Homo sapiens: one gene and its partners. The protein of the gene in region 1 purifies or fractionates together with the protein of each later gene. This does not show direct contact. Each region holds a gene or a part of one and is shown on either strand. Other genes may lie near its edges. The genes, in order: FKBP3, ABCF1 and LRRFIP1.

Region 1 (3,653 bases):
TGGCTCACTGCAACCTCTGCCTCCTGGATTCAAGTGATTCTCCTGCTTCAGCCCCCTAAATAGCTGGGATTTCAGGCGCCTGCCACCATGCCCAGCTAATTTTTGTATTTTTAGTAGAGATGAGGGTTTCACCATGTTGGCCAGGTTGGTCCCGAACTCCTGACCTCAGGTGATCAACCCTTCTGGGCCTCCCAAAGTGCTGGGTTTACAGGTGTGAGTAACTGCGCCCAGCTGATTGAAAGATTTCTATGCTGTATGCACCTGCTCTACTGAGAAGGTCATGGAAAAGACAAGAGTTCAAAGGCTGATAGAATTCTGGAACTTCAGGGAGGGATAGATTAAGATCCTGCATGGTTTAGGCCTTTGGACACAAAACTATAAGCAGTAATTGTTAATATCACTCTAGCAGTTGAGTAGAGGACTGACTCAAGGTGTCAGAGATAAACACAATCGGACATTAAAGTGGTGAAAACAGATTTTATTCAGCCTACTGACAGTAGGGGAAAGAGCTAAACTCCAGTCTGATTTGTGGAGGGGTAACTGGGCCTTTTAAAAGAATGAGGGGGCTGGGCCTGGTGGCTCACGCTTGTAATCCCAGCACTTTGGGAGGCCGAGGCGGGCAGATCACGAGGTCAGGAGATGGAGACCATCCTGGCTAACATGGTGAAACCCCGTCTCTACTAAAAATACAAACAAAAATTAGCTGGGTGTGGTGGCGGGCGCCTGTACTCCCAGCTACTTTGGGAGGCTGAGGCGGGAGAATGGCGTGAACCCGGGAGGCAGAGCTTGCAATGAGCCGAGATCATGCCACTGCACTCCAGCCTAGGTGACACAGCAAGACTCCATCTGAAAAAAAAAAAAAAAAAAAAAAAAAAAAAAGGAGTAGAGAGGGATTTAAGCAGAGTTAGAGAAGTGAAAAATTACATAAAGTAGGAAGTGGGGTTGGTCCATATGAAACCCATCTGAGTTTGCCAACTGGCGCTTATCAAAATCAGGCTCCCACAGAGACAGAGACAGGGGTCCTATCTTCATCTTGAGGCGTTGGCTGGAACAAACAGTAAATTTTTTTTGGCAGCCTTAAGTTTTCTTAGGCGGACACTTTAAGGAGGGATCAGGTCCTCCTAGGAATAAGGCCTTGAGCTATTTGAAACTTGTGTTTGTTCAAATCTTTATAGTCCAAGGTTGAAGGCTTGTGAAGAAGAGGTCTCAGAGGACCCTAGCTAGGGTTTGGTCAGGGAGAGAATCTTTTGCCCAAGAGGTAGACTATTTGCAAGGAGATCAGACTTTTTTTTTTTTTTTTTTAGATGGAGCCTTGCTCTGTCGCCCAGTGGTGCCATCTTGGCTCACTGCAACCTCCGCCTCCTGGATTCAAGTGATTCTCCTGACTCTACCTCCCGAGTAGCTGGGATTACAGGCACACGCCACCACATCCACCTAATTTTTGTATTTTTAATAGAGATGGGGTTTTACCATGTTGGCCAGGCTGATCTCAAACTCTTGACCTCAAGTGATCCACCCACCTTGGCCTCCCAAAGTGCTGAGATTACAGGTGTGAGCCACCGCACCCAGCACAGATATTTTTACTTACAAGTTTTGGAAAAGGATAAAACCTTCAGCTAGGGAAATGAAAGTGAATAAAAATTTGCATAACTTGACCAATTAGAAATAGATCAGGAATAGGCCAGGCGCGGTGGCTCACACTTGTAATCCCAACACTTTGGGAGGCCGAGGCGGGCGGATCACGAGGTCTGGAGTTCGAGACCATCCTGGCCAACATGGTGAAACCGTGTCTCTACTAAAAATCCAAAAAATGAGCTGGGCGTGGTGGCAGGCGCCTGTAGTCCCAGCTACTCGGGAGACTGAGGCAGGAGAATCACTTGAACCCAGGAGGCAGAGGTTGTTGCAGTGAGCCGAGATCACACCGCTGCACTCCAGCCTGGCGACAGAGTGAGACTCCATCTCAGAAAAAAAAAGAAATAGGTCAGGAATAAAGAAAACACTTTTCTCTTGCTTTTCAAACTCAGGAACTAATAGATATGAATTATTGGATATCCAAGCACACCTTTGTTATTTATTTTATGAAATTTAGAAACCAAATATAGATTTGGATAATGCAGATCCCTCTGAATTTGGTCTGAATTCAGAAACCAAATAGATTTAGGTAAGGATACTTTTAAATTCGGTACACTTCTTCTTTTTTTTAATTAACTCCCTAAGATTCTTGACAGTTCCTCTGTCTGCTTTCCTCTCATATATGAATTGCTATTGATTAGATTAATATGTAACCTTTTTTGTAGAAGACCCTGATAATCCTACTTTGTTCTAGGAAATATGCCTGTTATAGCAATTTCTTTAGGTAATTTCATCCATTGTGTGAATTTATTTTCCAAATCGGGGACAGAGGCAATATCACTGTATTCATTCTAATTGGTTATTATAAAAACACCTAGTAATATCAATTATTGCTGCTAAAACAGTTCAAATCTTTGTGGGGGGGAAGTCACCATCCCTTATTTTAATGCCTTATGATTTCATAGGAATTAAATAGTAATGATTTTTTTTAACTTTAGGAAATAACTGAAATCATGTTATGGTTTGGTGAATTATTAACAGAATCTTATTAGAAGAATTTAGGCTTCCAAAGAAGCTGGAAGTTATTTGAAATTAAATTATAGATGTGTAAGTTACTAATAGTCACATCACAGCCTTGAAATTAGATACTGAGGGTTTTGTTTGTTTATTTATTACCAAATCCATCAAACTCTTTAAACTGACTTTGGTCATTGTTGGCTATTGTTTGTCATTCTTTTAAAGGACACAAATTAATAACTCTGTGTGTGTGTGTTGTTTTTTGTTTTTAGGGTCCACCAAAATATACTAAATCTGTTCTGAAAAAGGGAGATAAAACCAACTTTCCCAAAAAGGGAGATGTTGTTCACTGCTGGTATACAGGAACACTACAAGATGGGACTGTTTTTGATACTAATATTCAAACAAGTAAGTCTAAATGGAATCTTATGTTTTTGGCTTAAAGAGATTCTAAATACTTGGGTGGCAGACAGATGAGTAGTTAGCAGTACCTTTTTCCTGACTGTCACCTACTTTCATCCAGACATACTTTCCCCCAAGATCTACTTGGAAGAGGTCTTCAGTTCACTGATTATTGGCTGGCTAAAGACCTCTTGTTCTTTGGAAAGCAAAAGATAAGGAATCTCAGTCTAAACCTGGTTAATGTCCCAAAGTAAGGCATTAGTATTTGAATAGAAAAGGCAGGATAGTATGCTGTTTTGTGATATAAGTATAGGTCCTACCCCTCTACCCTTTGTTAAGAATGTAATTATTTTTACAGCCAGAATTTTATTGATGGATGATCTTTGTAAATTTTTTCCTTCTTTTAAAATACATAGTATTGTAATTCTGAAATCAAACCACTATATTTTTCCACTGGAATTTAATAATTTCCAATGGAAATTTCTTAATAATAAATTAGAGTATATCATTAATGATAAGGAAAATCTGTTTTACAGGTGCAAAGAAGAAGAAAAATGCCAAGCCTTTAAGTTTTAAGGTCGGAGTAGGCAAAGTTATCAGAGGAGTAAGTAAAGAATGCCAATGAATCAGTAGATATTCTGGCATATGCTGCTTCTGGTATG
Region 2 (4,270 bases), on another chromosome or scaffold:
CAGTTTTGGCCCAAATAACTGAATGACCTGTGGTGCAATTTCTTGATGGGGAAGCCTGGAAGAGACAGGCTTTAGGAGTAAGAACAAGAGCTCCATTTTGTACGTATGAGAGAGATTTATTAAAGATCTCAGAGAAGATGTCCCATAAGCAGTTGAATTCATGAGCCTGGAGCTCGGGGCAGAAGTTGGGGGCCAGCAAGAGAAGTTTGGGAATCTTCATTGGTTATAGATGGTATTTAAAGTCAGGAGGTGATAGGTGATAAGTCTAGATTAAGGAGAGTGTCAAAGATTTAGCCCTGAGGCACTTCAACATTTAGACTTCAGGAGAAGCCCATTAGATGCAAAGGAAACCTATAGAGAGTAGTGTCCCTGAAGAAAACAAAGGAGGGAGGGAGCGACCAAGTCTATCAAACATTGATGGGAGAGTGAGTAGGATGGCCCCAGATCTGTTGACTTTGGCAAGTGTGAATTCAGACAATGGTGGCAACAAAAGCATGATTGTAGTGGTTTGAGAGCTGACAGAACTACAGGAGCACCTTGCTCAAGCTCCCATATTAAGTGGTAGAGTTAGAAGTGAACCAAAGTCTTGATTGTGGTGATAGTTTACTGGGTTTATGCAGGTCAAAACTTATTTAAGTGATACTTTGCAGTTTATTTTGGGTGCCATTTTATTTTGTGTACAGTTTATTGTATGTCAATTATATCTCAGTAAAGCTGTTACCAAAAAAAATAAATGAACCGAAGCTCCACTGCACCGTGACTTCTGCATGTTGGGCTCCAGTTCCCTGTTTACAATTGTACACTTCGGGATTTTGTGACACATTTCAACACTGGACCGATCAGACCTCTCCCTTAGCCATTGGTCTGCACTGTCTTTTCTGCCCATGACCCAGTCAGTCTCGCGCCCCATGACCCTCTCCTAAAACACGCGCAGTCTCCTCTCTCTTCCCCTTCCTCTCGTGTCTTCCTTGCCTACCAGCCTCACCTGATGGGCTCGTGTTCTCTCCGTCCCCGATCCACTCGGGCTCCGGCAGCTGCTGCTTGGGCGCCTTCGGCATCGCGGTGGCAGAACTAGAAACGAGTTACAGATAGAAACTAGAATATGCTTTTTAAAAAAACAAAAAACAAAACAAACAAAAAAACAGTATGCCTCAACTCCTTCATACTAGTAGGAAATTATTATGTTCATTCCTTGAGTCTCGCGGCGTCGGGAGGTCACGGCGTCAGGCTTCCCAGACAGTCGTAAACGCCATGTGTTTACGCGACTGGAGCAAGCGGACGCCGGCCCCGCTCCGTCATTGCAGGCCACGCCTCCACTGAACCAGGGCCACGCCCCCGAGATGACGGCGAAGCTCGCACGTGCGCAGCCCGGGGGCGGGGTTGGCCGCGCCAGCTTGGAGAGCCAGCCCCATCGGGGTTCCCCGCCGCCGGAAGCGGAAATAGCACCGGGCGCCGCCACAGTAGCTGTAACTGCCACCGCGATGCCGAAGGCGCCCAAGCAGCAGCCGCCGGAGCCCGAGTGGATCGGGGACGGAGAGAGCACGAGCCCATCAGGTGAGGCTGGTAGGCAAGGAAGAAACGAGCAGAGGGGGAAGAGAGAGGAGACTGCGCGTGTTTTAAGAGAGGGTCATGGGGCACGAGACTGACCGGGCCCCTGCGGGAGTTACTGCGCATGCGTGCCGTGGGCCCGGGAGGAGTTTGCCGGGGAGGAGTGGGTTTGGAATCGGGGTTAAAGGAAAGAGATCCAGATGTCGCACGTGACCTAAGTGAGACTGGGCGAGATAAAAGAAAGAGCATATGGCACCGAGGGAGAGATGGGGAGAAATGGGAAAACCTTGCTTAAAAAATTTGGACATCCGCCCCACCATACACTGTATTCCACCAGGAATATATGAGCCCTGCCTCGACCTCCCCTTCCCCCTGCGCGCGCATACACACACCTTGGGAGCCTGTGATCCCCCTTGTTTCTCAAGAGAGGGTGACTCCTTCATGGTTTCTTTCTTAAGACACCCCTCTCACTCAACTGGAGCAAGAGTGTAGATTTTTGATGTTGGAATGAGGGTTAAGGTTTACTTAAAAAGCAGCGAAAGTTTGTTAAGCGCTTGTTTTTAATTAAGCACTCTATATACTGTGCTTTGAGAGGGGAAGGAAAAAAACATGAAGATATCCTCCCAGGGTTGAAGTCAGTTTTAAGGGGGACATAAATGGACACAACTAACCCCAGTAGGTACACAGTAACTAATTTTAAAAGCACTTATTGGATGCCTACTGTATACCAGGTACTGTGTGGAGGAAGTGGGAATGTAGAGATAAAAGATAAGACTTTCCCTCAAGGGACAACCCAGTATGGTGAAGGGTCAGAGCATTAACCAGACAGACAGTGGTTGTCAGAGTATGATGAAGGTGCTTAAGAATGTTATGGGACTGTAGAAGAGAGGAGGAGCATCTACTCAGACAGGTAAGGGAGTGTCAGCAAAGCCTCCCAAGAATATGTAATAGCTGAGTATTTTTTTTTGAGGCACATTGTAGCTCCATCACCCAGGCTGGAGTGCAGTGGCATGAACATGGCTCACTGCAGCCTCCACCTCCTGGGTTTAAAGGATCTTCCTGCCTCAGTCTCCCAAGTAGTTGAGACTACTGGCATGCACCACCACACCTTATTTTTAAAATTTTTTGTAGACACAAGATCTGGCTATGTTGCCTAGGCTGGTCTCAAACTCCTGGGCTCAAGTAATTCTCCTGCCTCAGCCTCCAAAAGTGCTGGGATTACAGGCGTGAGCCACTACATCTGCTCCCCAGAGTTTATTCTTGAAAGATCATCGTGAATTAGCAAGGGGAAGCGCATTCCAAGCCAAGGAAGTTTGTGGAAGGTAGAGATGTAGGCAAGCCTGACTGGTCCCACTAGAGCCTGGTGACTAGTGTGATGAAGTCAGAAAGATGCTCAGGAGACAGATAATGAAAGGCTTTAGATGCCATTCCGAGGAGTTTAATCCTAAAGACATTAAGAAGGAAGGCCCATTGAAGTGCATAAGGAATGATTATGAACAGTTCACCTGTAGCACTGAGCAATGGAGAATGAATGGCCTTGAACTGGTCAAGATGGAGGCGGGGAGACCATTTAGGGGGCTCTGGCCATGATCTAGGTGAGAAGTGGTAAGGGGATAAGCCAAGGCCTGAAGAATAAAGAGTTACTAAGGAGGCGGCATTGATCGGAACTGAGAACTGATTAAATGAAGGGAGAAGTAAGGTTGACACTTAAGTAACCCAGTGACTAGTAGACTATTAACTGAAAGCAGTAATGGACAGGAGAGTAAGAAGTGGAAAGAGATAAGGTGAACTTCTGAATGCTGAGTTAGGCGTTTCTGAGGATTTCTAAAAGGAAATGGCAAGAAGAGAGTTTGTTTAGTCACTGTGGAGAGACAACTATACTAGGAGTAAAGACACAGGCAAGTAGAGTTGAAGTGCTGGATATGGAAGAGTCCCCTAGAGAGTGTTTGCAGATTGAACCAAAAAGAAGGTTAAAGGTGGGAACCCTAAAGAACTTCAGCAATTGCAGGAAGCAGGTGGGGAAGGAGGCTGAAGAGATGAGACTGAGAAAGGCAAACAGCCAGAGAAACTGGAGGCAAACCAGGAGTGAGCAAGATCCCAGAAATTAAATAATGATAGAAGAGAATAAAAAAGGTGTGGAGGTAGGCAGCATGGAATGCTGCAGAGAAGTCAGGCAAAATAAGGACCAAAAAATACTTTGTGGTTTGAGGAGCTAAGGGTTCAGTGGCAACTTTGGCAGAAGTAGTGTTCATTCGGAGATGATACCAGATTGCAGTATGTTTCAAAGGTATGGGAGAAGAGAAAGTGAAGCTTGTGAATTACGATTTTGAGACCCAATGAGGACAAGAATACGAAACAGTAATGGGGGAGAGGGGTATAAGGGTAAAGAAGGCTTGCTTTCTTGCCTTGAAGGAGCAGCTTAAGCGATATACGAAAGGAGAGAAGACACAGTATATCTCTAGCCACACTTAATCTTTTTCAGTTCCTTGGGGATTATACTTTCTCACAATGAAACTCTTCGGAGGCTTTTCCTGTCCCTATAATGAAGTGGATAAGAGTGATTAAAGTACAAAAGATTTTTTTGGTTTTGGTGGGTTTTTTTTTTTTGTGACGGAGCCTCACTCCAGGCTGGAGTGCAGTGGCGCGATCTCAGCTCACTGCAGCCTCAATCGCAGGCTCAAGCCATCTTCCCTTGTAGCTGGGACTACAGGCACACACCGCC
Region 3 (2,431 bases), on another chromosome or scaffold:
GCGATTATGCCACCATCTGCTGGCTTCCATTGAGCTGTTGAGAAAGTTGTTGTTTTAACGGTCGGTCCTTTGTAGGGACCTTTTTTTTTCTTCTCTAGTTTCTTTCAGGTTCTGTTTGTCTTTGATTTTCTACAGTTTTACTGTTAGATGTAGTTTATTGGAATCTTTCTGCTTGAGATATATAGTGTTTCTTGGATCTGTGAAGTCTTTTTAAAAATTGATTTTGGAAAATATTCAACCATTAACTCCTTAAATAATTCCTCTTTTTTAGTCTCTCCACTTTCCCCTCTGGAACTCTAATCAGAGGATGTTAGAGATTCTCATTGTCTCCACATTTTTTAACCATCTCTCTTTCATGTTTTCTATCTCCTTACCTCTCTCTATTGGATAATGCCTAAAGTTTTTGCAAAGATTTTCCAGTTCACCATTTTTTTTAAAAAGTGTCTTCATTGTTGATAGTTTCTTGCTGCATGTTCATGTATGTCCTCTTTTTAAATTGTATTCTTATTCTTTAAATATTTCATACACAGCTGTTTGGTTTTCTGTATCTGACAACTGAAACATGCTCAGTCTTTGGGGGTCTAATTCTGTCATTTATTGCTTCTGTTGACTCTCACTCAAATGGTTTGTCACCTTAGTGTTTTGTGAGCTTATGCTTGATTTTAATTTGTAGGAATAACTCCAGGCTTAACTTGTGGAAACTTCCTGCAAAAAGGGCTTGCTTCTGCCTCTGCTAGTGAGGTGGGGTCGGGACTTCTGTCCCAGGACCCAAACAAGCTTCCTTGAGTGTTTTGGGTCGAAAGCAGAGCCATAGACCCTGTTCTTGTCACCCCTCCAAAACCACGTTCTCCCAGCTTAGGGCACCCCACTCTGCCCTGCTGCCTGTGGGTCCAGATGATGCCCTGCTAATGTGGCTTCTGCAGCTCGTCTTCTGCCTGACTCTCAGGCTCCATGGCCCTGGCTCCCAGGTGTGGCCGTCTTGGCCTCAGGCATTCCTGCCTTGGACTCTGGCTGCCAGGGCTGTGGGGACCACCTTCGCCATGCAGTCCAGGCTCAGCTCTTGTTGTTTGTGTTTGTTTACCTCATGCCTCACTTACCTTTTGTGAAACCATCAGGATCCCCACTGGGCGTGTGGCTCACGCCTGTAATCCCAGCACTTTGGGAGGCCGAGGTGGGTAGATCACCTGAGGTCAGGAGTTCAAGACCAGCCTGACCAACATGGTGAAACCCCATCTCTAATAAAATACAAAAAATTAGCCAGGTGTGGTGGTGTGCACCTGTAGTCTCAGCTACTCAGGAGGCTGAGACAAGAGAATTGTTTGAACCCAGAAGGCGGAGGTTGCAGTGAGCCAAGATCACACCGTTATACTCTGGCCTGGGTGACAGAGCGAGACTTTGTCTCAAAAAAAAAAACAAACAAAAAAAGAGGCCGAGCGTGGTGGCTCATGCCTGTAATCCCAGCACTTTGGGAGGCCAAGGCGGACAGATCACGAGGTCAGGAGATCGAGACCATCCTGGCCAACATGGCAAAACCCCGTCTCTACTAAAATACAAAAAATTAACTGAGGGTGGTGGCGCACACCTGTAGTCCCGGGAGGCTGAGGCAGGGGAATCGCTTGAACCCGTGAGGCGGAGCTTGCAGTGAGCCGAGATCACGCCACTGCACTCCAGCCTGGGCGACTGAGCGAGATTCCATCTCAAGAAAAAAAAAAGAAAACCATCAGGATCCCCAAGGGTGTTCCCTCTCTGGAGTCCAGTTGTTTCAGAGGAGGAAGGGCATCATGAGGGACCAGGGGCCAAGTTATCATTTTATTTTTCAGTAGGATTGGAATTTCGGTAACACAGAACCCTGTTATGTTTGGAGGAAACAAGTTCCTTAAAGCTCACTGCCTTTCCTCCGTTCCCAGCTCCGCTCTGCATTGGATAAAACAGAAGAGCTCGAGGTGAGCAACGGCCACTTAGTGAAGCGTCTGGAAAAAATGAAAGCAAATCGGAGTGCACTCTTGTCCCAGCAGTAAATTCCAGCTCTGATCAGGCAACTGGTTGGTGACTGGAGAGCATTGTTTCATAGGCTTTTCTCTGTCCTATCTGGGAGCGCTGCTTCTTCCCCTGCCTTCCGAGAGACGAAGACCGTGGCGAGCTTGGCGCTTAGGGGCTCCCGTGCCATGGCTCACCCCAGGGAGCCCCAGCAGCCACCAGGTGCCTCTGTCTGCAGACCCCTGGCCCGGGCTGGCGCCGACGCTCAGAACCTGCAGGTACTTCATAAGCACACAGGGGCCTCGAGGGAGCTCTGTGTCTGACCGCACAGCAGCCTCTGAATGCCGCTGGAAGTGATGATCAAAGTAAAGATTCAGTTGGGACTTGAGTTTTTTTTTTTTTTCATGTGTCTTGCTGAAGATTAAGGGGAAATGTTACAGTGTTGGGACTTCCT

Evidence for each region.
Region 2: the proteins of FKBP3 (region 1) and ABCF1 fractionate together in Homo sapiens (co-fractionation; one large-scale study listed by BioGRID). This does not show direct contact.
Region 3: the proteins of FKBP3 (region 1) and LRRFIP1 fractionate together in Homo sapiens (co-fractionation; one large-scale study listed by BioGRID). This does not show direct contact.

Annotation. Positions count from the first base shown.
Region 1 is NC_000014.9:45,120,829-45,124,481, reverse strand, and holds part of FKBP3 (peptidyl-prolyl cis-trans isomerase FKBP3), read left to right. Parts: intron 1-2,861; coding exon 2,862-2,997; intron 2,998-3,527; coding exon 3,528-3,595; intron 3,596-3,653. UniProt on the Homo sapiens protein: FK506- and rapamycin-binding proteins (FKBPs) constitute a family of receptors for the two immunosuppressants which inhibit T-cell proliferation by arresting two distinct cytoplasmic signal transmission pathways. PPIases accelerate the folding of proteins.
Region 2 is NC_000006.12:30,570,007-30,574,276, forward strand, and holds the start of ABCF1 (ATP-binding cassette sub-family F member 1), read left to right. Parts: upstream 1-1,435; 5' UTR 1,436-1,481; coding exon 1,482-1,554; intron 1,555-4,270. UniProt on the Homo sapiens protein: Isoform 2 is required for efficient Cap- and IRES-mediated mRNA translation initiation. Isoform 2 is not involved in the ribosome biogenesis.
Region 3 is NC_000002.12:237,777,515-237,779,945, forward strand, and holds part of LRRFIP1 (leucine-rich repeat flightless-interacting protein 1), read left to right. Parts: intron 1-1,907; coding exon 1,908-2,018; 3' UTR 2,019-2,431.